Linked DNA regions of Homo sapiens: regions 2, 3 and 4 are each linked to region 1. The links come from fine-mapping of genetic effects on gene expression. A gene starts in region 1. Each other region holds a variant in brackets. All regions are shown on one strand. Distances are from middle to middle.

Evidence for each region. PIP is the estimated chance that this variant, and not a neighbour inherited with it, causes the effect.
Region 2: its variant is the best candidate, but not a certain one, in a credible set for the expression of SPTBN4 in pancreas (GTEx, PIP 0.84).
Region 3: its variant is the best candidate, but not a certain one, in a credible set for the expression of SPTBN4 in prefrontal cortex (ROSMAP, PIP 0.63).
Region 4: its variant is the best candidate, but not a certain one, in a credible set for the expression of SPTBN4 in pancreas (GTEx, PIP 0.78).

The regions. Positions count from the first base shown.
Region 1 is chr19:40,462,802-40,470,902 of GRCh38, forward strand. It overlaps SPTBN4 (spectrin beta, non-erythrocytic 4), which reads left to right and starts at 4,200. Exons shown (of 36, transcript NM_020971.3): 1 at 4,200-4,504. BLVRB (biliverdin reductase B) reads right to left here and starts at 2,944. Exons shown (of 5, transcript NM_000713.3): 1 at 2,809-2,944. The coding sequence starts at 2,887. RefSeq lists an enhancer at 2,018-2,137 and a silencer at 3,159-3,358.
Region 2 is chr19:39,914,276-39,922,376 of GRCh38, forward strand. FCGBP (Fc gamma binding protein) reads right to left here. Exons shown (of 36, transcript NM_003890.3): 4 at 3,797-4,367; 5 at 910-1,514. Among named protein-coding and RNA genes, the nearest start is that of FCGBP, 16 kb to the right of the region's middle. The variant T/C (reference allele first, on the strand shown) is at 3,737.
Region 3 is chr19:40,547,889-40,555,989 of GRCh38, forward strand. SPTBN4 (spectrin beta, non-erythrocytic 4) reads left to right here. Exons shown (of 36, transcript NM_020971.3): 21 at 1,301-1,525; 22 at 2,350-2,439; 23 at 6,259-6,537; 24 at 6,628-6,758. Among named protein-coding and RNA genes, the nearest start is that of SHKBP1, 25 kb to the right of the region's middle. The variant ATC/A (reference allele first, on the strand shown) is at 3,496.
Region 4 is chr19:40,536,859-40,544,959 of GRCh38, forward strand. All of the region lies in intron 20 of SPTBN4 (spectrin beta, non-erythrocytic 4), which reads left to right. Among named protein-coding and RNA genes, the nearest start is that of SHKBP1, 36 kb to the right of the region's middle. The variant G/T (reference allele first, on the strand shown) is at 3,490.

The DNA of each region.
Region 1 (8,101 bases):
AGAATGGCTGAACTCGGGAGGCGGAGCTTGCAGTGAGCTAAGATTGTGCCACTGCACTCCAGCCTGGGCGGCAGAGTGAGACTCTTGTCTCAAAAAAAAAAAAAAAAAAAAAAAAAAATCAGCCATCAATACAAAAAATTTCATTGCCTAACCTGGTGTACACAAACGCATACATATATAATTAAAATGAGTTTCACAAAACTAATACTTAACATGTGATACATTTTGATACTATGTCATCATTTGTTACCCTATATTGTTGATACACGTTGTGACCATATGTTTCAGATCTCATTGTAACTCACAGTTTGAGAAGCATCAGGTTGCAACAACCCTGCAAGGTAGGTATCATTATCCTGTCCACATTGATGGGGAAACTGAGGCAATTTTAGGCAACCGGGCCAGGATCACACAGCTAGTAGGTAGAGAAGGTTGAATTTTTACCTAAGTAAGTCTGATCCAGAGACTGCAAAATTCAATGCTAGTCTAAGTACCTCCTATATAAGATCTCATTTAATTATCCCAAGAGCCCTAGGGCAAGTACTACCAGTTTTGTCATGATCTTACACATATCTAGGTACACAGATGACAAGGCATTTGGTCACAAAGGCTGTAAGCCGCAGAGCTGGTGACTTGAATGTGGGCAGGCTGGCACCAGAGTTCATGCCTGTTAAGACTCTTGGCCCTACAGAACCATTGTGAACTCCAGTTAATCCAAGCCCCTTCTCCCTCCCTCCCTCCCTCCCTCCCTCCTTCCCTCCCTTCTTTCCTTCCCTCCCTCCCTCCCTCCATCCCTCCCTCCTTTTCTTCCTTCCTTCTTTCCTTTCATCTTGCTGTGTCACCCAGGCTGGAGTGCAGTGGTGCAGTGATGCAATCTTAGCTCACTGCAACCTCCCAGGTTCAAGCGATTCTTGTGCCTCAGCCTCCCAAGTACCTGGAATTACAGGCACGTACCACTGTGCCCAGCTAATTTTTTTTTTTTTGAGACAGAGTTTCACTCTTGTCGCCCAGGCTGGAATGCAGTGGCGTAATCTCGGCTCACCACAACCTCTGCCTCCCGGATTCAAGCTATTCTCCTGCCTCAGTCTGCCAAGTAACTGCGATTACAGGCACCAGCCACCATGCCCGGCTAATTTTTCGTATTTTTAGTAGAGACGGGGTTTCACTATATTGGCCAGGCTGGTCTCGAACTCCTGACCTCGTGATCCACCTGCCTCAGCCTCCCAAAGTGCTGAGATTACAGGCGTGAGCCACCGCACCCAGCCTCTTTTTCTTTCTTTTTATGTATTTTTTTAAATTTGAGAGACAGGGTCTCACCCTGTCACCCAGGCTGGAGTGCAGTGGTGCAAACACAGCTCACTGTAGCCTTGAACTCCTGAGCTCAAGCAATCCTCCCACCTGAGCCTTCTGAGTAGCTGGGACTACAGGCATGCATCACCACGCCCAGCTAATTTATTTTTTTTTTGTATTTTTGTAGAGATGGGGTCTTGCTACGTTGCCCAGGCTAGTCTCAAACTCCTGGCCTCAAGCCATCCTCCCGCCTTGGCCTCCCAAAGTGCTGGGATTATAGGCATGATCCACCGTGCCTGGCCAGCCCTTCCCTTTGCTGAGGGGGACAGCAAAGCTGAGAGCTGGGAAGAGATTTTTCAGAGCCACAGCTCTGAAGCTCCCTAGGCTCCAGTTCTTAACCCTCTGAGTGCAGTCCCAGCTATGACCAGCAGGGTGGGCGAGTGGAATTCGGTGGAATTAGTGGATTTCCAGGTGACTCAGCGCCTCTCAACTTCTCTCTCTTACTTCCTTCTCCATTACTCCCGAATAAATGCTTATCAGCAAACTGGTTTTTACTGAGAGGCCCACAGCTCCCCATTCTCCACAAGTCAAGATCCTCACGTGGTCTCCCTGGGGAAGGGGAGAGTTATGGACCTAGAGAAGAACTTTCAGAGTCCCTCCAAGGGAGACAGCAGAGTGGGGTCCTGTTGGCCTCCACCCTTTTGGGGCACGCAGATAGTCAATATCTTCAGCGTCCCCAAGGCCTGCAAGGGTGGGGCCCCATATCTGGAAGTCCCAGGCCCAGCTGGGAGTTGGTCAAGTCTGGGCTGTGGGGGCAGGGAGTGCTGGGGGATGGTTATCCCCTTTTCTGCCCTCTCTCCTGGGGCAACTCCAAATTTTCAGCCCTCATTGACTTTCCCAGGACTGCTGTCCCCAAGTCTTCACTCATGTCTCTCTGTGACTCCTTCCCATTAGGTACTCGCAGCAACCTGACCCCCCAACTTTTTCAGTTTCCAGCCTGGGGACTTGTGGTGGTTAAGAGCATGAGCTGAGTTCAAATCCCAGTCCTGTCAGTTAACAGCTGTGTGATATTGGGCAAGTCACTCTCTGGGTCTCAGTTTTCTCATCTGTCAAGTAGGGTGATACTAGTTCCCACCCCATTTTGAAAGCTCTCATGTGAAGAGACGACAGAGCAAGCTTGGCTTAGTAAATCCTCTCTGGGAGTGCGAACAACCACCACCACAACCACAATAATGACAACCGCATTGCATAAGAGCCCTGGACTTACACACGACTGTGCCAGTGGAGTCCTCCCGGGGCTCCCGGGGCCAATTCCTCTCTGGCTTGGACTCACATAAACTTGGATCTCACATCTTTCCCCATTTCTGCCCCCGTGGCCACTTGCTTTGGCCCCTGAGTCCTCATACACCTGGCTGGGGCGCTCATGGCCCCAATCAGCCTCGGCCCGACCCCATGGTGCCCCTTCCTAAAGTTCTGCCCGTCTGTCCCGTGACATGCCCCGCCCGCCCCGGCTCATGCCTGCTTGCACCGCCTGCGCCAGGGTGGTGAGCCCGGTCTGGCCAGTGGCGCCGAAGATCGCGATCTTCTTGACGGCCATCGTACGGGATCGTGGGGGTGCAAGGCCTCAGAGTCTCGGCACGCGCGGGAACCCACTGGCTGCTGGGCGGTGCTCTCTGCCCTACTCAAGCCAGGAACAACGGGGCGGAGCTGGCTCGAAGGGCCACGCCTCAGACTCTCCGCCCGCGGCTCAGGTCAAGGGGCGGGGCCTAACGCGGATGGGCGGGGCAGGCGTCAGCTTGCATTCGCTCACCGTCCAGCACCGCCCTCTCTGCGCGCCACTTAGACTGGAAGGCGGGGCCACAGAAGGCCACGCCTCCACATAGCAACAAATAGAGTGGACGGAGCCGAGATAACTTGTCACTCAGCGCCCTGCCTCCGCGCTCCACCTCCCGGAGAGGGGCGGGGCCAGGCGAGCCTCACCCACGGCCTCTCGTAGCTCACGCCCCCTCTCCCGGAGCCTGGAGCGGATCTGGGGCGCACTCTAAGCCCCAGGGCCTCCCAGAACCAGCAAGGGGAGAAAGTTAGGAGGACAGAGTGTGTGTGTGCACTTGGATGTAAGACACTGTGTCACGGCGTACCTATGCACTTATATGACCCTGTGTGACTCAGTGACCCGGAGGGCAAGCAGGACTGTGGGTGACACCTTGTGTCATCCTCTGAGTGTGATCCCGTGTTACAGTGTGACTACACGTGCGTGACACCACGTGTGGCAGGCATTGATTCTGTTCTTTTGTGACCTTGTGGTGACACCGTGGGTGACACTGCGTCAGCCTGTACGATAGGGTGTGGGACGTGTGAGGTGTGCTACATGGAAGCGTGAGACTAATTAGACTGTGACAGTGTGTGACACCACATGTCTCGTGTAAGGATGTGTGACACCGGGACCCCATTCGAGTGTGTGGCTGTGGGTGTCTGTGTTGAGCTGCTCATTGTGACCCCCTGTGACTATGATGTGTGAGGTGCGGCGGTGCAGCATGTGCGGGGCGACTGCTATGAAGGTTCGAGTGTGTAGAGTGTGTGACACTGTGGCTGTGAAGCTGTGCGTGATGTGTGGGCCTATGACACTGTTTGTGACTGCCGGGGAGTGTGCGGCTGTGTGTGACAGGTGCATTTGTGTGTGACGCCGCGTGGGCGGTGGTTACCCTATTGGATTTGTGTGGTGGTGGGTGACACCGTTCCAGTGTGGACGCCGCGTGTGACGGCGTGAGGGTGTGACCCCGTGAGACCCCACAGGAGGGAGTGACGGCGCGCAAGCGCGTGGATGCGGGGGTGAGTTTGTGCGCCGAGGCCCCCGCGAGTATGGCAGCGTGGCGAGCGTGACCCCGTGGGAGTGTGCAGCGCGTGACGCCGCCGTGCCCTCGCGAGTGCAGCCGTGCACCCCACGCCGCGGCCGGGTGTGACTGCGCGTGGGCCTCGGGCGGCGGGGCGCGGGGACCGCGGGCGGGAGGGGGTCCCGGGGGCGCGCTGAGCGCGGCGGCGGCGCGAGAGAGGGAGGCGCGGCGGCGCATGCGGATCTGGCTGAGCCGCGGGCCGGCGGGGCCGAGCTGAGCCGGGCTGGGCCGGGCCGGGCCGGGCCGGGCAGCGGACGCCGACAGGGAGGGCGGTCGGTCGCGGCGAGCAGCGGAGACAGCGACGCTGGCGGCCGCGGGCCCAGGTGAGCTGCTAGGGGGGCCGACAGCCCCTCCCCCAAGTATGTCCCCACCTGGCGAGCATCCCTCCTCCGCGCGCACGGGGCATGGCTGGAGCCCCGGGTCTCCCCGGCTGGAGGGAGGCAAAGGGTCGAGGGCAGGACGAGCCCACAACCCCCCCACCCGGTCTAGCTTCCGCGCCACGCGTGGGTCTTACCCCCAGGCCTTGTCCTTCCCAGGCCCCCTCCTTGGGCGCAGTGTCTGGACCGCAGGGAGAGAGGCGCGGCCTGGGAAGGGTTAAAGCCTCTGATGCCACCGCAGCCCAGCGCCCCACCAGCCTTTGCGGGGGGGGGGGGGTGTTGGGGGGAGGCTCGCAGGACACCCCTTCCCGGCTTCCCTATTACCTGCTCCCTTCCTTCCCATTCAATCGCGTTATGGCCAGAGCTGATCCTCGGCCTGGCCAGAGGGCTAACAGGAGTGCTAAGGGCCTCCCCATCTCTAAGTGTCTTCCACTGAAGAAAACAGCTGTAACCACCGTTTAACAGGGAGGGAAACTGAGGCACAGAAAGGCCAAGTTAAAGATACTCGGTTAAAGATACAGCAAGAATAAAGCGGAACTTGAACTCATTTCTGTCTGACTCCAGAAGAGGCAAATCGATTTGCTGAGATGTGTGAGGAAAAGATGAAGAATAATAGCAAGGAACATGTATCAAGGGCTTGCAGTGTACCAGATACCATGATCCCTGCATTAATAACTTACCTCTTCAAACACCGCTAAGAAACGGGTACGATTATCATTACTTTTTTTTTTTTTTGAGACGGAGTTTCACTCTTGTCACCCAAGTTGGAGTGTAATGGCGCGATCTTGGCTCACTGCAACCTCTGCCTCCCGACTTCAAGCAGTTCTCCTGCCTCAGCCTCCCAAGTAGCTGGGATTACGGGCATGAGCTACCATGCCTGGCTAATTTTGAATTTTTAGTAGACATGGGGTTTCACTATGTTGGTAAGGCTGGTCTCCAACTCTTGACCTCAGGTGACCCACCCACCTCCTTGGCCTCTCAAAGTGCTGGGATTATAGGCGTGAGCCACCGCCTGGCCTACCCTTTTGTGTGTGTGTGACAGAGTTTCATTCTGTCATTCAGGCTGGAGTGCAGTGAGTCAATCTCAGCTCACTGCAACCTCCATCCCCCAGGTTCAAGCGATTCTCCTGCCTCAGCCTCCCAAGTAACTGGGACTACAGACACGTGCCACCACGCCTGGCTAATTTTTGTATTTTTTTTAGTAAAGACCGGGTTTTGCCATGTTGGCCAGGCCGGTCTCGAATTCCTGGCCTCAAGTGATCCACCTACCTTGACCTCCCAAAGTGCTGAGATTATAAGCATGAGCCACCGTGCCGGGCCATCATTACTATTTTGCAGATGAACAAACTAAGGCCCAAAGAGTGGAAGTATTTCAGCCAAGGTCACACAGGTGGTAGGTAGCTGTGTGCTCACTTTCACTTTTCCATGGAAGGAGGGAAGAACAAAAATGGATTTGGGACTGGGCACAGTGGCTCACATGTGTAACCCCAGCACTTTGGGAAGTTGAAGTGGGCAAATAGCTTGAGCCCAGATGTTTGAGACCAGCCTGAGCAACATAGTGAGACCCCCTCTCTACAAAAAATACAAAAATTACCTGGTCATGGTGGAGCTTGCCTCTAGTCCCATCTACTCAGGAGGCTGAGGTGGGAGGATCGCGTGAGCACAAGAGTTGGAGGCTACAGGGAGCTATGATTGTGTCACTGCACTCTAGCCTGGGTGATAGAGCAATACCTTGTCTCAGAAAAAAAAAAAAGATTTCAATGTGTCCCCCTAAGGGACAATTTCCACTCTACTCACTCTACTGACCAAGACTTAGACCCTGCCTTCCTAGAATTCAGTGGGTTGGCAATTGTCTGGGTCTTTTGAGGACATTGATCTCCCAACTTCCTCCTTTGTTAGTCTTTTTTTTTTCCTTTTTCTTTTGAGAAGGAGTCTTACTCTGTCGCCCAGGCTAGAGTTTAGTGGCACAATCTCGGCTCACTACAACCTTCGCCTCCCGGTTTCAAGCAATTCTCCTGCCTCAGCCTCCTGAGTAGCTGGGATTACAGGCACCTGCAACCTTGCCCACCTAATTTTTGTGTTTTTAGTAGAGATGGGGTTTCACCATGTTGGCCAGGCTGGTCTTGAACTCCTGACCTCGTGATCCACCCGCCTCAGACTCCCAAAGTGCTAGGATTACAGGTGTGAGCCACCACGCCCAGCCGTTAGTCTTAGAATCAGGCCTGGGGGCCCAGAAGGTAAAGGAGATACATCTAATGTCACTTAACCCTTTAAATTTCTTCTCTTTTTTTTTGTTTTTTTTGAGATGGAGTCTCACTCTCTCACCCAGGCTAGAGTGCAGTGGTGCGATCTCGGCTCACTGCGACCTCCGCCTCCTGGGTTCAAGCAATTCTCCTGTCTCAGCCTCCTGAGTAGCTGGGATTACAGGCATGTACCACCATACCCGGCTAGTTTTTATATTTTTAGTAGAGGCGGGGTTTCACCATGTTGGCCAGGCTGGTCTGGAACTCCTGACCTCAGGTGATTCACCCACCTTGGCCTCCCAAAGTGCTGGGATTACAGGTGTGAGCCACTGTGCCCGGCCAATTTCTTCTTTTTTTAAATAATTTTTTGTTTTCTATTTTTTTATTTTCATTTAATTTAATTTTATTTTTTCTGAGATGGGGTCTCACTCTGTCGCCCAGGCTGGAGTGCAGTGGCACGATCTCAGCTCACTGCAACCTCTGTCTCCCAGGTTCAAGCGATTCTACTGTCTCAGTCTCCTGAGTAGCTGGGATTATAGGTGCACAATGCCATGCCTGGCTAATTTCTTGTATTTTAGTAGAGATGGAGTTTCACCAAGTTGCCCAGACTGGTCTCGAACCCCTGAGCTCAGGCAATCCACCCGCCTTGGCCTCCCTAAGTGCCAGGATAACAGGCATGAGCCACCGTGCCCGGCCTATTTTTATTTTTTTATTTTTGTTTGAGATGGTGTCTCGCCCTGTTGCCCAAGCCGGAGTGCAGTGGTGCCATCTTGGCTCACTGCAACCTCTGCCTTCCCAGGTTCAAGCGATTCTCCTGCCTCAGCCTCCTGAGTAGCTGGGATTGCAGGCATGCACTACCATGCCCAGCTCATTTTTGTATTTTTAGTAGAGATGGGGTTTCACCATGTTGGCCGGGCTGGTCTTGAACTCCTGACCTCAAGCGATCTGCCTGCCTTGGCCTCCCAAAGTGCTGGGATTACAGGTATGAGCCACTGTGCCTGCCCCCTCCACTTTAAATTTTTCTTCTTCTTCTTCTTCTTTTTTTCTTGAGAATGAGTCTTACTCTGTCGCCCAGGATAGAGTGCAGTGGCACAATCTCAGCTCATTGCAACCTGCGCCTCCTGGGTTCAAACGATTCTCCTCCCTCAGCCTCCTGAGTAGCTGAGATTACAGTAGCCCGAAACCACACCCAGCTAATTTTTGTATTTTCAGTAGAGACCGGGTTTCACCATGTTGGCCAGGCTGGTCTCGAACTCCTCACCTCGTGATCCGCCTGCCTCGGCCTCCCAAAGTGCTGGGA
Region 2 (8,101 bases), 550 kb before region 1:
GGGCCACCTGGTCAGGGTATTCACAGTTCTGTGGCCCACCCTTCAATTCACTCACCTCCAGCTACCCTGACCTCCTTGCTATTCTCTTGGACATATTACGCTCAGTCCCACCTCGAGGCCTTTGCACTTGCTGTTCCCTCTGCCTGGCTCACCATTCACCCCTCTTCATTCCTAAAGCACCAGCTTAAATCCAAATCCCTCACCCATGGCCTTCAAAACCTACATGATCTGTCTATCTCCCCATTACCTCCCTCGCCTCACCTCTTCTCACTGTCCCTCTCACTCAGGCTGCTGCAACCATACTAGCTTTCTTTTCTTTTTTTTTTTGGACAGGGTCTCACTCTGTTGCCCAGGCTGGAGTGCAGTGGCACAATCTTGGCTCACTACAACCTCTGCCTCCTGGGTTCAAGCGATTCTCTCTCAGCCTCCCTAGTAGCTGGGATTACAGGTGTGAGCCACTGCACCTGGCTAATTTTTTTTTCTATTTTTAGTAGAGAGGGGGTTTCACCATGTTGGCCAGGATGGTCTCAAACCTCAGATGATCCACTCGCCTCAGCCTCCCAAAATGCTGGGATTACAGGCGTGAGCCACGGTGCCCAGCCACTAGCTTCCTTTTTAAAATAGAGACAGGGGTCTCACTCTGTCACCCAGGCCAGAATGGAGTGGCACGATCATAGCTCACTTCCTAGCACTTCAGGAAGCTGAGGCGGGAGGGTCACTTGAGCCCAGGAGTTGGAGACCGGCCTGGGCAACTTAGTGCGACTCCGTTCTGCACAAAAAGGAAAAAGGAAAACGAAAAAAATAAAATCTTCTAACAGGCCTCCCCCACCCTCAGGCCCATCCAGAACTCCAAGTCTTCAGAGGGTATTTCCTGCTCCGTCACCCAGCCCTGGGCGCCACGTCGCTCACCAGCACTTGCCCGGGGTACTCCCGGCGCACGGCCACCTTCACCCCGCGGGCCTCCACCCGCACGGCGCGCGTGTAGCTCACAGTCTGGCTGCCCCGATGCTCGTTTTCCACCAGCACCCGGAAGGCAGGCAGCGCTGCGTTCTGGCCGCATGAGCCGACCAGCAGGTACGTGCAGGTGCCCATGAAGTCGAAGCGCCGGCCGTCGAAGCTCACATAGTGTGGGTCCCCGGACCCCTGGCAGGTCCCGAAGCGATCGGGGTAGCAGCCCAGGAGGCCGTTCTGGACGCTGCAGCGCTCACCCGCCGGGCAGCTCTGCTTGTCGCGGCAGGTGACCTGATGGGTGGCGCCGTTGCAGGTGCAGCGCCTTTGGCACAACTCGTCCGCCCACACTTCCTGGCCCGGAGCGAGCTGGAGACCCTGGAAGGTGCAGCCACACGACGAGGCCGGCACGCAGGCGCCGCCGCTGGCCACGAAGCCTGGGAGGCACACGCAGCCCTCCACGCAGGGGCGCCCGGAGCAGTTGGACGGCGCCGCAGCCCCGTTGCAGGAGGTCGGGCAAGCAGGGCCGCAGAGCTCATAGCGGCTGTTGGCAGGGCAGGACAGGGCTGCGGGGAGATCAGAGAGGGTGGATCAGGCCCGCGTAGCAGGGGCCGTCGAAGAGCGCCCTGTCGGGGACGGCGCCCAGGAATTCCATCCCCAAACCCTGCTCCTCTCTCAGAGCTCGCCATCTCAGATAATGGCACTGCCATTCTTCTGGGTGCTCCTGCGCCACACCCCAGCGACGCAGTTAATCTCCACCCCGCCAACCCCCTAACGCTCACTGGACAACCAATCTGTCAGCAAGTCCTGTGAGCTCCATATTCAAAATCTACCCAGATTGGCCGGGAGTGGTGGCGCAGGCCTGTAATCCGAGCTACTCAAGAGGCTGAGGCAGGAGAATCGCTTGAACCCGGAAGGCGGAGGTTGCAGTGAGCTGAGACCACACTACTGCACTCCAGCCCGGGCGCAGAGCAAGACTTTGTCTCAAAAAAAAAAAAAAAAATCCACCCAGTTACAGAATCTGCCTCTGATCCTATCCACCGCAGCAGCCTCCTGCCTGGGCTCCCTCCTGCCCCCACAGCCTGTTCCTCACACCAGGCCGAGGAATCTGGGAACATCTGGGTCAGATCAGGTCCCTCCCCATCTCAGAGCACTACTGTGGCTTCCTCTCACTCAGGGTAAACGCCAGAGTCCTCCCCATGCCTCAGGAGGCCCTGTGCCATCTGTTCCTCTCACCTCTCAGCCCTCACCTCTTCTCCCTCTCCCTCGGGCTCACTCTGCCCCAGCCCCAGCTGCCTCCTCCTCCCGGGTCCTCACCCTCCCACCTCAGGGCCTTTGCATTGGCTGTTCCCTCTGCCTTCCCTTTCCCCAGAAAGCCCACTGGGGCCCAGGTGGCCTGGGTTCAGATCCCAGATCTCTCCTTCTCGGCCACTGACTCCAATCTCCCCGTGCCTCAGTTTCCCCATCAGTAAGATGGGATAATGTAGTCGAGACCTCACAGGGTTGTTGTGAGGATTAAATGAGTTGATCTATGGGGAAACATTCTGTGGACATCACTGTTAGTTAGTACTTAGCTGACTCCATTGCCTGACCCTGGTCTCAGCTCCAATGTTACCTGCCCAGAAAGGCCTTCCCTGATCACCCTCTTCACGAGCCTCACAGTCACTGTCATTGAATGAACTTGTTTCTTTGCCTCTCTGAAGATACTTCCTAGTTCATCTGCTCACTGTCTGTGTCCCTCCCCTGCCGCTAAGAGAGAAGTTCTGCGGGAGTGGGGACCTGATCTGTCTCAATCACTGCTGAGTCCCCAGCACCAAGGACAGGGCCTGGTACGCAGCAGGTGCTCAGGAAATACTGCAGAAGTGAAAGGGAGAATAAATGAACTCTCTGATTCCTATTTTGCGCCAGGCATGGGGTTGGGGGGGTGCTTACTGGGCAGTGGGGACACAGAACTGGCCAAGACAAACACCTAGTGGCCTCTATGTCTGCCCTGTACTTACTCCCCCTCCCTCTGGGCCTGGGCCTGGATGCCTCTTCCTCCCTCCTACCTGTCCTTTCTGCCTCTGGGACATGTCTCTAGGAGCCTCACTCACAAGGGCAGGAATAGATTTATGCTGGTCTTCACTGTGTCTTCAATATCATTAGCATGCACAGGGGGCAGGCAGGGGTTCAAGGAATGCTTGTGGAATGAATGAGTGAACGATTAAGCAGACGGACACCTGGCTAAAGAGCCTGGACTTTATCTAGAGGGCAATGGGAGTCATGGGAGGGCTATAGGCAAAGGAAGAGACGTCACGTCTCTGTGTTGGGATTCTGCAGACAAGAATTCCCGTCCTGCCAAGCCTTTGAGCATGCTGTTCTCTGGGCCTGCAACTCACTTCCTCCTCTTTCTCTTGGCAACTTCCAGCCCCTCTTATGGGTTTCAAATTGGACATCTTTCTCTAGAAAACCCTCCCTGACCACCCCTGCTCCCCAGGCTGGGCCAGGAACCTCCTCTGGTTTCCCATAGCCCCACTGACTTCCTCCATCCTGGCCCCAACCCCTCTGCCTGTGTCCCCCGCAATCCCAGCCCTGACTCATCTGCCTGTCTCTCTCCCATCCTGGCCCCAACCCATCCGAGTGGGCCTCCCCATCCTGCCTGGACCCCTCCAGACTGTCAATGTCTAGTGAAACGTCTCTCCAACCTTAGGCTCATTGTGGACAGAGCTGGCTGTCTTGGCCATCACTAGGCCCCTGGCATTGCCCAGCACCAGGCTGAACCATAATAACTTCTCAGATATTAAGCAGA[T/C]GCTAGGGATCTCCTGCCCCTCACTGTATGCTCCCAGCCCCCACCCAGGGCATCACTCACGGCAGTTGGCTGGTGATCTCCAGTCCCCAACCGAGATGCCAAGCTCCAGACAGGCCTGGGCATAGGCGCTGAGGCCACGGCACAGGCTGAGCCGCTCCCCACCGACCACACACAGGTCATATACACACTGCTCCAGGAAGGGCCTGGGGTCCAGGGTGTCATGGCAGACAGCGAAGGGGCCATCGAGCTTGGTCAGCATGCCACAGAGTCGGTCGCCCTCATAGTGTTGGGCCTGGCCTGGGGTGCAGGCGGGACAGTTGTTCTGGCAGCCATCCTCACACAGGTAGTCCCCATCATCCAGCTTCCAGCTACTTGCGAACTCCACAGCGTCAGGAGCCAGAGCCCCGTCAGGCGTGAGGAAGTCGTCTGCTGGGTCACCATTATAGTTGCCACACAGCCCGCACACCTGGTCTTGGAAGCGTGCAGGCAGGCTGAGTGCCAGCTGGCAGTCCCAGTCATAAGTGACCACCAGCCCAAAGACCAGCTCCACCACGGCCCGTGGTCCGCTCTGGTACACACGCAGGCGACCCTCACTCAGGGAGACTGGCAGGCGCGAGCGCTGGTTGTCAACCTGCAGAGTGGGTGAAGAGGAGGTGGTCAGGCCCCTGTGCCATCTGGCCTCCAGCCCTCATTAAAGTACTTTTTAATTAAAAGTTTTAAATAGGAGAATATAGAAAAAGAGTATGTGCTCAAACGTCACTGACTCAAGCCTTCCCTGACTGCCCTATTTTATGATTTTATTTTATGGTTTGTTTGTTTTGTTTTGTTTTATAGAGATGAGGTCTTGCTATGTTGCCCAGGCTGATCTCAACTCCTGGCCTCAAGCAATCCTCCTGCCTCAGCCTCCCAAAGTGCTAGAATTACAGGCATGACCCATGGGACCCAGCCTACACCCCTTTTTAAATGGCAGCCTTGGGCCGGGCGCAGTGACTCACACCTGTAATCCCAGCACTTTGGAAGGCTGAGGCGGGTGGATCACTTTATGTCAGGAGTTTGAGACCAGCCTGGTCAACATGGTGAAACCCTGTCTCTACTAAAAATAAAAAAATTAGCTGGGTGTGGTGGGGCACGCCTGTAATCCCAGCTACTCAGTTGGCTGGGGCAGGAGAATTGCTTTAACCCAGGAGGTGGAGGCTGCAGTGAGCCAAGATCGTGCCAAACAGAGTGAGACTCTGTCTAAAAAAAAAAAAAAGGCAGCCTCTCCCTATTCCATAGCCTCCTTCCCTGCTTTCCTTTTTTTTCTATAGCATCTGGCCTTCTGAAATATAATTCACAAATTGACCATGTTTATCATCTGTCTTACTCCATCAGAATGGCAGCTCCACAAAGACAAGGGTTTGGGTCTGCTTTGATCACTGCTTTATCCCCAGTGCATAGAACAGGGCCTGGTAGAATCCCAGGCACTCACTAAGTGAATTAAGTCACTGCTGCATTTAATAAACATTCACTGGGCACTCACTCTGTGCCTGGCCTTGAGCTGGGAGATCCTGGGAATACGAAGGTGGCGGAGACAGCCCCAAGCCCTACCCTCATGGGGCTCCCAGTCCATTGGGAGAAACAGACACATCACCAGACAGTGAGAGCTCAGAGGGGTCAGGGCAGAGATGGGAGAAGCACAGGCAGAAAAGTCAAGGCCAGGATCAGAAAGGCCCAGGCAGAGGGGTCAAGGATGGGATAGGGGAGGTACAGGCTGAGGGTTCAGAGCTGGGATAGTGGGGAGATAGGAGGCTGTGAAAACCTAGAAAAATGGCCAGATCTAACCTTGCTGGTCAGGGATGTTGAAATCTTAACACCCAACATGATGGTATTAAGAGTGGGGGGAGGCCTTTGGGAGGTGATTAGGTCATGAGGGTGGCACCCTCATGAATGGGATTAGTGCCCTTATGACAGAGGCCTCAGAGAGCTCTCAGATCCGCTTTCCACCGTGTGAGGATACAAGGAGAAGTAGGCCATCTGCAACCTGGAAGAGCACCCTCACCTGAACCTGGCAGTGCTGGTGACCTCATCTTGGACTTCCAGCCTCCAGAACACAGAGACGAGGTTGTGTTGTTTATAAGCCTCCCAGGCTCTGGAGAAGCCTGAAGTCTGACTAAGAACCAGGAGATAAGAACTATGTCTCTCTGTGCCCTGGGGCATCTTTTTTTTGAGATGGAATCTTGCTCTGTCACCAAGGCTGGGCTGCATTGGCACGATCTCGGTTCACTGCAACCTCTGTCTCCCAGGTTCAAGTGATTCTCCCACCTGGGATTACAGGTGCCTGCTACCACGTCCAGCTAATTTTTGTATTTTTAGTAGAGATAGGGTTTCACCATGTTGGCCAGACTGGTCTTGAACTCCTGACCTCAAGTGATCTGCCCACCCCTGCTCAGCCTCCCAAAGTGCTGGGATTACAGGCATGAGCCACCGTACCCAGCCTTTTTTTTTTTTAATTAATAAAAAAATTTTTTAAATTAGATATGGGGGTCTCACTATGTTGTCCAGGCTGGTCTGGAGCTCATGGCTCAAGCAATCCTCCCACCTCGGCCTCCCAAAGTGCTGGGATTATAGGTGTGAGCCACCGCACCCAGCCTGGGCATCTCTTTCTTACTCTTTCCTTACACATTCTCTGAGCTGTGCCAGAGCTGAGACTTGAAGTGGAGAAGTCTTAGCCAAGAGGATGGAATATGATAAAAGGAGCAACAGGAGAGAGGACAGCATGAGCAATGGCCCAGAAGGAAGACAGAGCATTCACTCATTCCGGCTCCCAGCAAAGCTTCTGTGAGTCCCACTGTGTGGCCTGCTCTGTGCCAGCTGGTGCTTTAGACACTGCAGTGATGGAGACAGGCCATGGCCCCATGCTCAGAGCTCTCAGTCCAGCATGGCTGCTCAAATCTGTTTCTCCCCTAAGTCCAGTGATCTCCATTTTAATTTTTCTATTTTTTTATTTATGTATTTTTTTGAGACAGTTTTGCTCTGTCACCCAGCCTGGAGTGTAGTGGCAGCATCATAGCTCACTGCAGCCTCGACCTCCTGGGCTCAAGCCATCTTCCTGCCTCAGCCTCCCAAGTAGCTGGGACCATAGGCAGGCGCCACCACACCCAGCTATTTTTTTTTTTTTTTTTTGGTAGAGATAGGGTCTCCCTATGTTGCCCAGGCTGGTCTCAAATTTCTGGGCTCAAGTAATCTTCCAGCTTCAGCCTCCCAAAGTACTGGGATCACAGGCGTAAGCTACCATGCCCAGCCAATCTCCATTTTTAAATGACACAAATAATATTCGTTCATTACAGAAAACTGAAAATGCACAGGAGCAAAAATGAGAAAAGAAAATCACCCTGTAGGCAGACACATACAAATGTATAGATCCTGTTGAGTTTTTTCCTACCTTTAGATATATTTACACTTAAAAAAAAAAAGACCATGCTGAAGTCACTATTTCATTAACTCCTCTCCTAACAATGTCTTGTGAGTATCCTACTATGATTCTGACAGTAGCTCTGCACCTTTGTCAAGTCACTGACCTCTGTGAGGATCTGACGGAAAAAAAAATGAAAGGCCGGGTGCGGTGGCTCATGCCTGTAATCCCAACACTTTGGGAAGCCGAGTTGGGCGGATCACAAGGTCAGGAGATCAAGACCATCCTGGCTAACACAATGAAACCCCAGCTCTACTAAAAATACAAAAAATTAGCCGGGCGTGGTGGCATGTGCCTGTAGTCCCAGCTACTCGGGAAGCTGAGGCAGGAGAATCGTTTGAACCCAGGAGGCGGAGGTTGCAGTGAGCCGAGATCACGTCACTGTACTCCAGCCTGGGCAACAGAGCGAGACTCCGTCTCAAAAAAAATAAAAAGTAGTTTTCAGAGAGAGGTATAAAATTCTGTATATAATTTCAAGGGATCTGAAGTCCGCCTGAACTTGTGCTCAACCCCTCCAGGGCTGAAGAACACCTCCTTTCACCAACTGATTATTAATCGCAGAGATCTACCTGCACACTCACAAAATCAGGGAGGTACAAGAATATTTATTTCAGGTCAGATACAGGGGCTTACGCCTCTAATCCCAGAACTTTGGGAGGCCAAGGTGGGAGGATCACTTGAGACCAGGAGTTCGAGACTAGCCTGGGCAACATAGCAAGACCTTATCTCTACTAAAAATAAAAATACTTAGCCCAGTATAGTGGCATGAGACTGTAGTCCCAGCTACTTGGAAGGCCAAGGCTGGAGGATTGCTTGAGCCCAGGAGTTTGAGGTTGAAGTGAGCTATAATCACACCACTGCACTTCAGCCTGGGCAACAGGGCAAGACCTTGTCTCAAAAAAAAAAAAATCAAA
Region 3 (8,101 bases), 85 kb after region 1:
TCCATCCCAACATTATAAAAGCATTTGCCCAGGTTTTCTTTTAGTGCCTTATGGATTTACTTACTCTGTTTAGGTCTTTAATCCATCTGGAATTGTTTTCAGTACAAACAGCAAGGAAAGGATCCAGCTAAATTGGTTAGCCATTGGCCCATGACCATTCATTAAATAATCCATCTTTCCCTTGGGGATTTGAATTGGCACCTATGAAACACATGAATTTTCCTGTGTATTTGGGTCTGCTTTTGCACTTTCTGTCTATTCCTAAGACACAGCAGCCATCCAAATTACTATAGCTTTGTATTTATTTTTGATAATTTCTTACTATCAAATTTTTTTATCCGGTAATCCCAGCACTTTGGGAGGCCAAGATGGGCAGATCACTTGAGGTTATGAGTTTGAGACCAGCCTGACCAACATGGTGAAACCCCATCTCTACTAAAAATACAAAAAAAATTAGCAAGGCATGGTGTCAGGTGCCTGTAGTCCCAGCTACTTGGGAGGTCAAGGCACAAGAATCACTTGAACCTGGGAGGTGGAGGTTGCAGTGAGCTGAGGTTGCCCACTGCACTCCAGCCTGGATGACACAGCACCCAGGCTGATTTGTTCATCCTGAGGTCAGGAGTTCAAGACCAGCCTGGCCAATATGGTGAAACCCCATCTCTACAAAAATACAAAAATTAGCCGGGCATGATGGCAGGTGCCTGTAATCCCAGCTACTCAGGAGGCTGAGGCGGGAGAATCACTTGAAGCCAGGAGGTGAAGGTTGCAGTGAGCCAAGATTACGCCATTGCACTCCAGCCTGGGCAACAGAGCGAGACTCCATCTCAAAAAAAAAAAAAGCGTTAACAAAAAATTATTACTATATTTGATGGTAATAATTTTGGAAAGTTGACTCTTTGGACAAATTCTTTAACTTCTCTTGGCCTTGGTTTCCTCCTCTGTAAAACAGGGAGACTACCAATCTTGAAGGTTGTTCTGGGAATTAGTGAATTAATGGACCACTTTAGTTCCGGGGTCAGGTAAGCCTCTTTGAGAAGGTAATACTCCAGCTGAAATCTGATTGACAAGGAAGAGCATGCCTGGCAGAGGAAACAGCAAAGGCAAAGGCTCCGAGGCAGGGACTAGCTTAGTGTGATGCAGGTTCATGCGGAGCGCATCGCTCCTGGAGGGGACTGAACAAGGAGAGGGTGGAAGGGTGGGCCGCGGTGAGGGGTCTGGCTGTCACCATAAGGGTACTGGAGAGCCACAGCAGGATCAGGAGGGCGGGTGGGGCCCATTGACCCTGCCTCTGTCCCCACAGTCCATGGAGTCGCAGGTGGAGGAGTGGTACCGCGAGGTGGGAGAGCTGCAGGCGCAGACGGCGGCGCTGCCGCTGGAGCCGGCGAGCAAGGAGCTGGTGGGTGAGCGGCAGAACGCGGTGGGCGAGCGCCTGGTGCGCCTGCTCGAGCCGTTGCAGGAGCGCCGCCGCTTGCTGCTGGCTTCCAAGGAGTTGCACCAGGTGGCGCACGACCTGGACGACGAGCTGGTGAGGCCAGCGCAGGGGCCTGGGGCGGGGCGGGGCGGGGCGGTGGGGCGGAGAAGGTGGGCATGGGGCGGGGCTGAAGATGGAGACGGCTGAGACCCTCCCACTCATACGCTGAAAGACGCATTCAGCCGTTCACTCATTCATTCATTCACACTCATTTACTCACTTTGAATCATTCGTTGATTTATTCATGAAGTCACTCATTTATTTATTCACTCATCCATAGTTTGTTCTTTCCTCCACTCATTTATTTACTTAACTATTCATTCATTCACTCCTCTGTTCCTCATTCCATCACTCAATTTCCTGATTTGCTCATTCATTTGTTCACTCAGTTGATCATTCTAGCCCCAGCCCTGTGTTTGGATGATAGTGGGGCCACAGGGGTGGCCAAGGCAGACCCCATTGTGCCCCAGAGGGTTCAGAGTCCAACGGGGAAAACAGACTTGTCCCCAGACAGTGACAATTCAGGGTGGTTAGGAATATGATAGGAAACAAGACCTGTATGTGCAAAGGCCAACGGTGTGAGCCTGGCTTAAGTGCAGACAGCAAGAAAGAGTATGTCAACAGAGGAGACTGAGACAGGTGTGGTGGTGCCTGTTGTCCCAGCTACATGGGAGGCTGAGGTAGGAGGATTATTTGAGCCTGGGGATTCGATCCCATCTCAAAGAAAAAAAAAAAACAAAAAATGGAGGAGGCTGAATATTCAACTGGGCTCTTAGGCAAGGAAGGGCCTGGGATGCCGTGCAGGTTTAAAGTTTAGTTGCGATGCAGGGGTTCTTGGATGCATTCTCCCCTTGACCTGCTTCCTGTGTCCTCTCCAGGCATGGGTTCAGGAGCGGCTGCCACTGGCCATGCAGACAGAGCGAGGCAACGGTTTGCAGGCGGTCCAGCAGCACATCAAAAAGAACCAGGTGAGCAGAGCCAGGTGAGGGAGCGAGTTAGGACATTTGGATACATGTGATAGAAACAGCTGAAGGTGGTTAAAGCCAAAACAATGAATGTATTGGCTTTTGGAATTAACAAGACTGTGGACAGCAGATACAGATGTATCCAGGTGCTTCCATATATTTTCATGACTCTTGGCTCTATTTTTTTTTTTTTTTTGAGATGGAGCCTTGCTTTGTTGCCCAGGCTGGAGTTTAGTGGCACAATCTTTGCTCACTGCAACCTCCACTTCCTGAGTTCAAGCGATTCTCCTGCCTCAGCCATCCAAGTAGCTGGGATTACATGTGTGCACCACCACACCTGGCTAATTTTTGTATTTTTAGTAGAGATGGACGGCGGGGGGTGGGGTGTTTCACCAGGTTGGCCAGGCTGGGCTCGAACTCCTGGCCTCAAGTGATCCACTCGCCTCAGCCTCCCAAAGTGCTGAGATTACAGGTGTGAGCCACCGCGCCCGGCCTGTTTGTTTTTCTGCATGAGCTTTCTTCTTAGGCCAGTCCTCCTCTCCTGGTGATAAAAGGCCTCCAGTGGATTCAGGTTTACCTCCCACCAGCAAAACTGAAGAGAATTTCCCACCTCAATAATGTCAGCAGTAGTCTCAGGAATAACTCTCATTGGCTCACCATGCCCATGGCATCCCACGCCCATCCCTGAACTAATCATGATGGATGGGGTTTCGGACTGCTCCTTGGGCTGGCCTGGTTAAGCGCCCTCCCCTGGAACCTGCTGCTGGAATCAGCCTTAGCTTAATTACCAAGGCTGAGATGGAGGCAAAGGGGGTTTCCCAAAGGAAAATCAGGGGCTTGAGACTAGAAGGAAGGGGAATAGCTATTGGACAAGGAAAAAGTAAAACAACAACAAACAAAATCACAAAACATCGAGTTAGCCTGGTGTGATGGTGTACCCCTGTAGTCCCAGCTACTCTGGAGGCTGGGGAGGGAGGGTCCCTTGAGTCCAGAGGTCAAAGCTGCAGTGAGCCTTGAACACCCCACTGCACTCCACCCTGTGCAACAGAATGAGACCCT[ATC/A]TCTCTCTCTCTCTCACACACACACACACACACACGTCCCCCAAAACAAACAAACAAAAACACCCATAGGGACAAAGGACAGAGATAATCAGCAAGAGGATACTACTGCCCCCTAACCTGAGCAAGGTGGGGGAGGGGGCCTTTGAGCTCCTAAAAAATCTCTGAATCTGTTCATTCCTCTGGGGCTCAGTTTCCACATCTAAAGTAGAGTTGGTTTAGAGCAGTGGTTCTCAAACTGCATACGAAGGGAACCCCTTGGTCAAAGCAACTATTTCACCAAAGCCTAAAGCAAGACATAAAAGAGGAATAATAATAATAAGGCATTGTGCCAGGTGTGGTGGCTCATGCCTGTAATCCCAGCACTCTGGGAGGCCAAGGCAGGATGATCACTTGAGCCCAGGAGTTTGAGACCAGCCTGGGCAACATGGGGAAACCCCGTCTCTACCAGAAATACAAAAATTAGCTGAGCATAGTAGAAGGTGCCTGTAATCCCAGCTACCTGGGAGGCTGAGGCAGGAGAATTGCTTGAACCCAGGAGGCAGAGGTTGCAGTGAGCCAAGATCACACCACTGTACTCCAGCCTGGGTGACAGAGTGAGACCCTGTCTCAAAAAAAAAAAAAAAACATCGATTAAAGATTTACTAAGTGCTGGCTGGGTGCAGTGGCTCATGCCTGTAATCCCAGCACTTTGGGAGGCTGAGGTGGGTGGATCACCTGAGGTCAGGAGTTCGAGACCAGCCTGACCAACATGGTGAAACCCTGTCTCTACTAAAAATGCAAAAAATTAAGGCCAGGTGCGGTGGCTCACGCCTGTAATCCCAGCACTTTGGGAGGCCGAGGCGAGTGGATCACGAGGTCAGGAGATCGAGACCATCCTGGCTAACACGGTGAAACCGCGTCTCTACTAAAAACACAAAAAATTAGCCGGGCGAGGTGTCGGGCGCCTGTAATCCCAGCTACTCGGGAGGCTGGGGCAGGAGAATCGCTTGAACCTAGGAGGCGGAGGTTGCAGTGAGCCAAGATTGCACCATTGCAATACAGCCTGAGTGTCAAGAGCGAGACTCCGTCTCAAAAAAAAAAAAAAAAAAAGATTAAAAAAAAAAAAAGATTTACTGTGTGCTAAGTACTGTCTTAGGGTTTATGCTGATTATTTAATTTAATCCCCTCTATAACCCTATGAGGTAGATATTGTCATTATCCTCATTTCACCAAACAATGTATGTTGGAAGAATAGGGCACTGAAGGATGGTGGGGAGGTGGGTCTACAGATTATTTTGGAAGCTTCCTGATCATTCTGCAGTAGGTAGAGTTATTTAAGAGACTGGAGTTTTGCTGAGATTTTGTTTTCCTGTCTTGATGAAAATACTCTTGGCTGTCAACAGTGTGGGCGACAGAACTGGCTTATCGTTGTCATGGTTGAGGAAACTGATCAAGTGCACTTAGTACTTAAAATTGGGGGAGCTCAGCTGTGTGTGCAGTGAGAGTGCTGGATACACAGGGGCTGTTAAGCCAAAAATAGCTGCAAATATGATGCATTTGGTGCATGCAGACTCAGTTCCAAGTGCTCCATAGTTTATCACCTTATAACAACCCCGCAAGGTAGATTATCTCAGCCTGATACTAGCTGTGTGACCTTAGCAAATTCCTCACCCTCTCTGTGCCTCAGTCTTCTCATCTGTAAAATGGAGATGGTAATGTTGTCTGGCTCCATAGGTTGGGAGTGAGGAGGTGTGAGGCTATATTATGTAAAGCTCTTACTTAGCAAAGCACCTGGCAGGTAGCAGGGTAGCAGACACTCAAGAATCGTTGGCTGGCCGGGCACAGTGGCTCATGCTTATAAGCCTAGCACTTTGGGAGGCCAAGGTAGGAGGATCGCTTGAGGCCAGGACTTCAAGACCAGCCTGAGTAACATAGCAAGACCTCGTCTCTCCAAAAATATTTTTTAAAATAGCAGGGCATGGTGGTGCACACCTGTAGTCCCAGCCGCTTGGGAGGCTGAGGCAGGAGGATCACTTGAGCCCAGGAGTTTAAAGCTGCTGCATTCCATCCTGGGTGATAGAGTGACACCCTGTCTCTAAAAAAGCAAAATAAGGAGAGGACTTGCTGGCTGTTATTATCTTTATCAGTTGAGTCACACAAAAAGTTAAATAACGTTAAGGCACACAAAAAGTTAAAAAAGACTCACAAAAAGTTAAATAAGGTACTCTGTAAGTAAATAAGGTTAAGGCACACAAAACGTTAAATAAGGTACTCTGCAAGTACAGAGCTGGTTGAGGGAACCTTCTGGGGGATGGAAGTGTTCCGCACGCTGATCTGGGCACACCGGTGTATGTGTCTGTACAAATGTGTGCAACTGTATACCTAAGATTTGTGCACTCTACCGTATACAAATGATACCTCGGCTGCTAAGCTGCAGGGTTTCTGTATTAGGGCCCATCTTGGGTCGGCAAGCGGCTTGGCTCAGAGCACAGTCTCTGGAACCAGCCTCCTGTGTTCAAATCCTGTCACTCCTTACTGGCTGCTTGTTCTTGGGCGCCGTACTTCGCCCCTCTGTGCCTGTTTTCCCACCTGCAGCAAGCATAGGGTTATGATGAGTGAGGGAGTATCAGCAAAATGTTTACATGGTCTTGGCACGTGGTTAGCGAGCTGGGGGTGCTTGTTAATTGCCCCGTGGGCCGTGCCAGTAGCAGAGGAGCGTGTGGTCTTGCAGGGCCTCGGAACGCCCCCTCTCCACCCACATCCCCTTACCTCCTGCCCCCAGGGCCTGCGGCGGGAGATCCAGGCGCATGGGCCGCGCCTGGAGGAGGTGCTGGAGCGCGCGGGCGCGCTGGCGTCGCTGCGCAGCCCGGAGGCAGAGGCAGTGCGCCGGGGCCTGGAGCAGCTGCAGAGCGCCTGGGCCGGACTGCGGGAGGCTGCCGAGCGACGGCAGCAGGTGCTGGACGCCGCCTTCCAGGTGGAGCAGTACTACTTCGACGTGGCTGAGGTGGAGGCGTGGCTGGGCGAGCAGGAGCTGCTCATGATGAGTGAGGACAAGGGCAAGGTGCGCCCGAGCTGGGGGTGCGGAGGGCCTGGGGGCGCTGGAGCCGGGGGCCGCCGCTGCCGCCTCATCGTGGGCGCTTTGTGCCCCCAGGACGAACAGAGCACCCTGCAGCTGCTCAAGAAACACCTGCAGCTGGAGCAAGGCGTGGAGAACTACGAGGAAAGCATCGCGCAGCTGTCGCGCCAGTGCCGGGCGCTGCTGGAGATGGGGCACCCGGACAGGTGGGCGGGCGCGTGGCCAGTTCACAGGAATGGTCCAGCAGGACCTGAAGCTTCGCTGTTGGGAGTTGGCGCAGCGCTGGAATTGGACGTTGGGTGGGAGAGGTCCTCCTTGCTGTGTGCTGGAGCCCTCGAATTTGGCAAGTGGGCGGGCCGGAATGGGGGGACACGGCTCAGGGATGGTTGAGAGGGTGGGGCCAGGAGCACCTGGATTTGAGTGTAGTAGTGGGGACCTTGTCGGGGGAGAAAAGAGTAGGCGATGTCTAGGACTGGGGTAGAGAAGAATTTACTCAGGACAGGCAAGGGGCTCTTTCTACTCAGTGTCTGGGAGGACAGAAAAGCCTGTGCTGAGATTGGCTATGGCGGTGGGGCTGGAGACCTCCTGGTGCAGTGGGGTGATGTTGCCTCGTGTAGGCGGATGCTGAGCTCCAGGCCTGGACCAGGGATGGAATCTGTAAGGAGGTACAGAGAGAGACCTCTGTCCAAGTGGGCTCAGAGATTGGGGCTAGAGGTGGGATGCATTGGCTGGGGACCCAACCTGGGAGTCCAGAGTCCCACCGAGGTTCCTGGATAGGAGGGGCGTGAGACTGAGATAGAAACCGGGTGAGGCTGCCGAGGTGGGCGGATCACTTGAGGTCAGGAGTTGGAGACCAGCTTGGCCAACATGGTGAAACCCTGTCTCTACTAAAAATAAAAAATTAGCTGGGCATGGTGGCACGTGCCTGTAGTCCTAGCTACTGGGGAGGCTGAGGCAGGAGAATGGCTTGAACCTGGGTGGCAGAGGTTGCAGTGAGCCGAGATCGCGCCACTGCACTCCAGCCTGGTGACAGAGCAAGACTCCGTCTCAAAAAAAAAAAAAAAAAAAGAAAAGAAAAAAAAAGAAAGGAAACTGGGTGAGGCTGGATAGAGGTGAGCTTATCCATTTAGGGAAGCGGAGCTTTCCCTGCATGCTGAAATGCAGGGCTTTCTGAACCCAAGACTTGCAGAAAACAGAGTCCTGGCCAGGTGTAGTGGCTCACACCTGTAATCTCAACACTGGGAGGCTGAGGCAGGAGGATCGTTTGAGCCCAGGAGTTTGAGAACAGAGGGAACATAGTGAGACCTCATCTCTACAAAGAAATCAAAAAGTTAGCCAGGTGTAGAGTCACGTGCCTGTGGTCCCACTTGGGAGGCTGCAATGGGAGGATTGCTTGAGCATGGGAGGTGGAGGCTGCAGTGAGTTGTGATCACACCACTGCACTCCAGCCTGAGCAACAGAGCAAGACCCTGTCTCCAAAAAAAAAGAAAAAAGAAAAGAAAACAGAGCTCTACCTGGGGACACAGCCGTGTCTGAAGATTCCAAGGAA
Region 4 (8,101 bases), 74 kb after region 1:
CACTGCAGCCTCAACCTCTGGGGCTCAAGTGATGCTCCTCCCTCAGTCCCGCAAGTAGCTGGGACTACGGACCCACACCACCATGCCTGATTGATTTTTTTTTTAAGAAACAGAATCTCACTATGTTGGCCAGTCTTTATCTCTATTTATTGAACTAAAAAAAAAAACTAAAACGGAGTCTGGCTCTGCCACCTAGGCTGGAGTGCAGTGGCTTGATCTCAGCTCACTGCAGCCTCTGCCTCCTGGGTTCAAGCAGTTCTCCTGCCTCAGTCTCTGGAGTAGCTGGGATTACAGGCCTGTGCCACCAAGCCTGGCTAATTTTTGTATTTTTAGTAGAGATGGGGTTTCAGCATGTTGCCCAGGCTGGTCTCGAACTCGTGGCCTCAGGTGATCGGCCTGCCTTGGCCTCCCAAAGTGCTGGGATTACAGGCATGAGCCATGGCATCCAGACTGTAGTTCTCTTTCATGTCTAGAATAGAAGAGAGCTAGCTTCTCCCATCCGTGTCTGTATTCAATCCATTTCACTAGCACAGGTCATCAGGTCTCTGAAAAACACTGCTGCATGCTGGAGAGAGAATGAGAATGGTGAAGGCAAATAACATCTTAGTATTTTTATAAAAATAGTTGTAACCTTGCAGATGCCTTGAAAAGATCTCAGGGATCCCCCAGGGGTTCCTTGGCCACAGTTTGAGAACTGCTGATGTACACAATGTGCTGGGCACTGTTAACTCCTCTCTCCTCCCCAACAGCCCCATGAGGGAGGTCCTGTTATTATCCCCACCCAGCAGAAAACCACAGCACAGAAAGGATCTGTGGCTCACAGAGGTCACATGGCTACCAAGTGGCTATTCAATACCACCTTTAGTCCCTCCCTGAGCCTCTGTCCTCCCTCTTAAATAGGACTCTATCATCAGTGCAGGTCTCCCAGGGCCAGGTGGGGATGTGCACAGAAAGGAGCCACTTAGCACAGTGCCCAGGATGTGGTAAGCCTGCAAGAAAGGGGCATCTGACTGTCAGGGTCCCAGCCAGAAACAGAAGCAGGCTCACCTGCAGAAAACTTGAGTTTCTTGACAAAGGTGTGAGTGGAGAACGGGGAAGCTGCAGGAAGCATATAGGGCTGTGGGACTCATGGAGGGGAGCTTTTGCTCCTCCCTAGCCAGAGAAGGTAGAGAAGGAAAAGTTATTGGAACTTGGAAGGGGAGAGTTGCCAGACAGGAGCTGGCACTCTTAGTCAAGAACGGCAGCCATGGCCAGACGCAGTGGCTCACGCCTGTAATCCCAGCACTTTGGGAGGCCAAGGCGGGTGGTTCACTTGAGATCAGGAATTCAAGACCAACCTGGGCAACATGGCAAAACCCCGTCTCTACTAAAAATACAAAAATTAGCCGAACGTGGTGGCACATGCCTGTAATCCCAGCTACTCGGGAGGCTGGGGCATGAGAATCGCTTGAACTTGAGAGGCGGAGGTTGCAGTGAGGCAAGATTGCACCTCACTGCACTCCAGCCTGGGTGACAGAGTGAGACTCTGTCTCAAAAAAAAAAAAAAAGAGAAAGAAAGAAAGAACGGCAGCCAGACCATGGCACCATAGCAGGGAAGAGCTGGGGAGATAATACCCCAGACTCACTTTCCTCTGGGCTTCCCTTTGTCAGCCAGGGCTGGCTTCATGGGTGTTTGCCCGTGCAGTGACACAGGGCTCCATGCTTGGTTTAATGCCCTACTATTGATGTCTTGAATTTTTTTGTTTTTGAGGCAGTTTCTACCTCTGTCACCCAGGCTGAAGTGCAATGGCGTGATCATGGCTCACTGCAGCCTTGAACTCCTGGACTCAAGTGAACCTGTCACCTCAGCCTCCTGAGTAGCTGGGACTACAAGCGTGTGCCACCACGCCCAGATAATTTTTGTAGTATTTTATAGAGACGGGGGCCTCACTGTGTTGCCCAGGCTGGTCTCAAACTCCTGGCCTCAAGTGATCCTCCTACGTTAGTCTCCCAAAGTGCTGGGATTACAGGGGTGAAGCACTGCCCCTGGATAAAATTCTTAATAAATATTTGAACAAGGGACCTTGTGTTTTCATTTTGCACTGAAAAGTATAAGCCATGTTTGAGGCCAACCCACATGGAAGCCAGAGGACAGGAGGGCTGGTCCATGCAGGTCAGTCCTGCACAGGGCAGGGTGAAGAAGCTTGGACTATGGGTCTCAAGATCCCGGGCTGAAGCATCCATCCACCTCGGCCTCCCAAAGTGCTGGGATCACAGGCGTGAGCCACTGCCCCAGCCTATTGCTAGGATTCATAATTATCTTGCAGTGATTACTAATTCTTCCCCAGCAGTGTTTTGCAGTGGCTGAAGGCACAGACTTGGGACTCCAGCAGGTCTGGTTCTGAGTCACAGCTCTCCCACTTGCTGCCTTCGTCTCTCCCTCTGAGCCTTGGATGCCTTCTCCTTGCAATGGGAAGGACCTCAATGCTCACCCCCTGGTGGATAGCAGGAGTGTGGGAAGCAGCAGAGCATCTCAGTGAAGGGCATGGATGCTGGCGCTGGGCTGCCTGGGTCAAGCCCTGGCTCTGTGCCTTATCACCTGGATAGCCCAAGGAGGTTACTTTTCTCTCCATGCTTCAGTTTCTTTTTCTTTTTTTAAGAGGGAGTCTCACTCTGTTGCCCAGGCTGGAGTGCAGTGGCAGGACCTCGGCTCACTGCAACCTCCGCCTCCTGGCTTCAAGTGATTCTCCTGCCTCAGCGTCCTCCTGAGTAGCTGGGATTACAGGCACCTGCCACCACGCCTGGCTAATTTTTGTATTTTTAGTAGAGACGGGGTTTCACCATGTTGGCCAGGCTGGTCTCAAACTCCTGACCTCAAGTGATCCACCCACCTCCGCCTCCCAAAGTGCTGGGATTACAGGCATGAGCCACCGCGCCTGGCTGTGCCTCATTTTCTTCTTCAGTAAAATGGGCATAATGATATTTCTGACCTCATAAGGACATTGTGAAGGTGAAAAGACATAATGCATTAAGTGGTTTCAGAACTGCTGACCCAACAAATCTAAGATTCAGTATTTATTCACAGGTCTTTAATTTTTTTTTTTTTAGACCAAGTTTTGTTCTTGTCACCCAGGCTGGAGCGCAGTGGCACAATCTCGGCTCACTGCAACCCTCTGCCTCCTGGGTTCAAGTGATTCTCCTGCCTCAGCCTCCCGAGTAGCTGGGACTATAGGCACCCGCCACCATACCCGGCTAATTTTTGTATTTTTAGTAGAGATGGGGTTTCGCCATGTTGTCCAGGCTGGTCCCAAACTCCTGACCTCAAGTGATCCGCCCGCCTCGGCCTCCCAAAGTGCTGGGATAATAGGCATGAACCACCGTGCCTGGCCAGTCTTTAATTTTAACTGTCATAAAACTGAGAGCATATCACCATCACTCTACTGTTTTCAAAAGCTAGTTGTTTCACCTTCCCTTTGGTTGTTACTTATGTGATACACGGTTACTTCATTT[G/T]TTTTTGTTCATATTCCATTTGGGGCATTTACCCCTCTCCATGCTGCTTTTTAATTTTAATTTATTTTTATTTTTTGATAGATGGGGTCTCACTATGTTACCCAGGCTGGTCACAAACTCCTGGGCTCAAACAGTCCTCCTGCCTTAGCCCCTCAAAGTGCTGGGATTATTCGCGTGAGCCACTGCACCTGGCCCCAAAACACATTTTAAAAAAGCAACATGGATGATTGGGCACAGTGGCTCATGCCTGTAATCCCAGCACTTTGTGAGGCCAAGGCAGGAGGATCGCTTGAGCCCAGGTGTTCCAGACCAGCCTGGGCAACATAGCGAGATTCACATGCCTGTGTTCCCAGCTACTCAGAAGGCTGAAGTGGGAGGATCACTTGAGCCCAGGAGGTTGAAGCTGCAGTGAGCTGTGATCGTGTCACTGCACTCCAATCTGGTCGACAGAGTGAGACCCCCATCTCAAAAAAAAAAAAAAAAAAAAAAAAAAGAAAAGTAATTTGGAGGTGGTAAATGAAATATTTATATAGTGTTAAAAGTTAGAACCATCTTTAGCTCACTTGCTTTTGCCAAATTGCCTGCCCAGGTCCTTCTGTGGCTGCTCACTCTCTCCCCAGCAGTACACATGAGCTCCTGTTTCCTCTCGTCCTTGCCAACACTTGGTTTTGTCAGACATTTTAGATCTTTCTCAGTCCGATGGCTGGGAAGTGGTATCTCACTGCAGTGTGTGTATTTGTATTTTTTTCCAATGCTACTGGCGAGCTTGACCATCTTTGACCTTCTTTTGTACTATTTAGGTTTTAGAGGAAGGAGTTGGGGCCTCCTGCTTTAGCCAGAGTACAGAGTTAGCTCTTCCCTCCCTGTAGGGGGTTCAGTCTCAACCAAGCCCAGCAAACCATGAGATGGGGGTCCCCATTGTTCAAGGGAGGGGCTGAAGCCCAGAGGAGACAAGGGAGTGGCCCTGGGGTCACACAGTGATGGGTGCCAGAGGCAGGCTCCAGCACGAGACTCCTGGGCCCTTTTCCCAGCAGAGGGAGCCCGAGGCAGGAAGTGACTGTGTGGGCCAGGGCACCCAGACGGAGCCCAGCTGCCCCTCAGGAGCTGCTACTGGGGAAGGGACCTGCCAAGGCCCTGCTGTCCCCTGGGGCATACACAGGAGAGGGGTTGGCTGCCATCCAGCCTGGCACGTTTCCTGGCTGTCCCATCCACCCTTAGGGCACTGGGGCCAGGCTGGGCTGAGGGAGGTACTGGCTCGGGGTCTGAGGGGTGTAGTGGTGTGCAGTGTGTGAGCGATCTGTCCCCCTCAGCCTCTCTCCTGTCCTCCCGTCGCCATCTCTGTGTCTCTCTCTTCCCTTTGTGTCCCTCTCTGTCCTACTCTCTCACTCCCTTCTCTCTGTCTCTTTATTTATTTTGAGACAGAATCTTACTCTGTCACCCAGGCTGGAGTGCAGTGGCGCGATCTTGGCTCACTGCAATCTCCGCCTCCCAGGTTCAAGCGATTCCCCAGCCTCCCCAGTAGCTGGGATTACAGGCACCCGCCACCATGCCTGGCTAATTTTTGTATTTTTTTATTTTTATTTTTTCTTTTTGAGACGGAATCTCACTCTGTCACCCAGGCTGGAGTGCAATGGCACAGTCTCAGCTCGCTGCAACCTCCGCCTCCCGGATTCCAGCGATTCTCCTGCCTCAGCCTCCCAAGTAGTTGTGATTACAGGCGTGAGCCACCACGCCCGGCTAATTTTTGTATTTTTAGTAGAGATGGGGTTTCACCATGTTGGCCAGGTTGGTCTTGAACTCCTGACCTCAGGTGATCTGCCTACCTTGGCCTCCCAAAGTTCTGGGATTACAGGCATGAGCCACCACCCCAGTCTCTCTGTCTCTTTTTATTTGACTTCTCTGTCTCTGCCTCCTTCCCGTGTTCCTCATGTCCTCCTTGTGTCCTCTCCCTCATCCCGTACCACACCCGCTGCTGCAGCAGGCTCTCTGGGACCCCACCTCCCAGGTCCTGGCCACGTGACCCAGAATCCTCTCTCGGGGCCTGTTGCCAAGCTGTGCTTCCTGGCCAAGAAGCCAGATGGTGGAGTCTCAAGTCCTGGCTCCCCAGCCCTCAGGGACCTGGCCAGCTGGTCGGCCTCAGCCACAGGCTCCTGCTTGGAGAGATGGGGGACTGGTCTCCTGCCAGATGAGAAAATGCACTAGAGGCTTTGCAGCTGCCAGGCTCTGTCCCTGGGGACCCCACACTTTTTCCAGGCCCACCCCCACCCTAAGCAAAGCTCTTTCTCTGGCCAAGGAAACACCCTCCTCCCCCCTGTTCTGCTTCTCTGTCCCATGTTTTTGTATCCAGCTCAGCATGGCCTAGGAGAGGAGTGCACATTCAGGGACTATACAGTCCCAGTCCTTGCCTTATTGGGACTCAAGGCAAGGGACCCCATCCTTTCTTTCTTTCCTTTTTTTTTTGTTTTTGTTTTTTTGTTTTTTGAGACAGAGTCTCACTCTGTTGCCCAGGCTGGAGTGCAGTGGCGCGATCTCAGCTAATTATGTCTTCATAATTCACAAATTATGTCTTCAATTTATGAAGGTGCTGGCTCGGGGTCTGAGGGGTGGAGTGATCAGTAACTCAAATTACGTCTTCACAAATCTCCTTGTCTTCATTTCTGAGCACCGCTTTCTTCTGTGTTGGCCTCATGGTCAGGGAGTCCCTGATGTTGGCAGGATGACCCCAGGATGCCCGGCCTACCTCCTCCCAACTTAGGAAGCCCATGGGAAAGAGAGCATCTCTTCTGTGCACACACATTTTCCTGGCGAAAATGGGGAGAGTGGCCGGGCACAGTGGCTCACACCTGTAATCCCACACTTTAGGAGGCCAAGATGGGAGGATTGCTTGAGGCCAGGAGTTGGAGACCCGCCTGGCCAACACAGCGAGACCCCACCTCTACCAAAAAAGAAAAAGTGGGAAGAGTTTTCATTGGCCCATCTAAGGTTACGTGCTCATATCTGACCCAATCTTTATGACCAGGGTGTTTTCAGTGTTCTGCTTGGCCCCACTTGGGTCATGTGATTACCCATGACTCTCTAGGTTTCATTTGCCCTTCAGGAAGCTCAGGACCTGAGAGTGAGTTTTGATGTATTTGGAAGGAGAGGATGGATTTTGGGCAGGCAAAACCAACAACTCTGCACTACAGAACTTTGAATCAAGAAGTCTTGGCTTGGTTCTTGAGTTTGGGGTTTTGTTTTGCAGTCATTTGTGGTAATCTGCTACCACTTAATTTTTTAATTGTTATTTTGTTTTCTTCTCTAGCTTTCCTCCATCTGTTTAGAATTACAAGGGTAATATATGAATATATTCTTTTGGGAAAAAATTTTACTAACCGAGCAGTCTTCAGTAAAACATAAAGTCTCACTCCTATCTGCCTCCCAATCCCACATCCCAAAGAGAGCCTCAGTTATTTGGTGTGCATCCATCTAGACCTCTTTCTGTGCATTTACAAGTGTACCTATATGGATGTTTAATGTTTTTATATTATTTGCTTTTCATGTTTAATTTCAATTTTTGAATAAATAAATTTTCATGGTGAAGACATCAAAACCTCTAGGGAAATCCCATGGGAAAATTATCGCCTTCATCCCTGTTCCCCATTCATTAAGTTCTCATCCCCTCCCCCAGTAAGTACCATCTGTTATGAACTTCTTGTTTACTCCAGGGAATTTTTATGCATGTGCAATCCACTATAAATTTATATTCATAGGTAGGTTCTAAATTGCTTCTTCTTCTTCCTCTTTTTTTTTTTTTTTTTTGTTTGTTTGTTGTTGAGACTGAGTTTCGCTCTTTTTGCCAAAGCCGGAGCGCAATGGCGCGATCTCAGCTCACTGCAACCTCCGCCTCCCGGGTTCAAGCAATTCTCCTGCCTCAGCCTCCCAAGTAGCTGGGATAACAGGCGCCTGCCACAATGCCCGGCTAATTTTTTGTATTTTTAGTAGAGACTGGGTTTCACCATGTTGGCCAGCATGGTGTCTATCTCTTGACCTCGTGATCCGCCCGCCTCAGCCTTCCAAAGTGCTGGGATTACAGGCATGAGCCATTGTGCCCGGCTTTTTTTTTTTTTTTTTTTTTTTTGAGATGGAGTTTTGCTTTTGTTGCCCGGGCTGGAGTGCAGTGGCATGATCTCGGCTCACTGCAACCTCTGCCTCCCGGGTTCAAGTGATTCTCCTGCCTCAGGCTCCCGAGTAGCTGGGATTACAGGTGTCTGCCATCACGCCTGGCTAATTTTTTGTGTTTTTAGTAGAGATGGGGTTTCACCATGTTGGCCAGGCAGGTCTCAAACTCCTGACTTCAGGTGATCCACGCGCCTTGGCCTCCCAGAGTGCTAGGATTACAGGCGTGAGCCACCGCACCCAGCATGCTTTTTCTTCTTAACAGTAACACTTGGCTATTTTTCCATACTGGTCTGGATTTGTTTAACCATTTTACTCTTTTTTATTTTTTATTTTTTTTTAAGAGAGGGGGTCTAGCTGTGTTGCCCAGGCTGGTCTCAAACTCCTGGGCTCAAGCATTTCTCCCACCTCAACCTCCTAAGTAGCTGGGATTACAGGCATGAGCTGCTGCACCTGA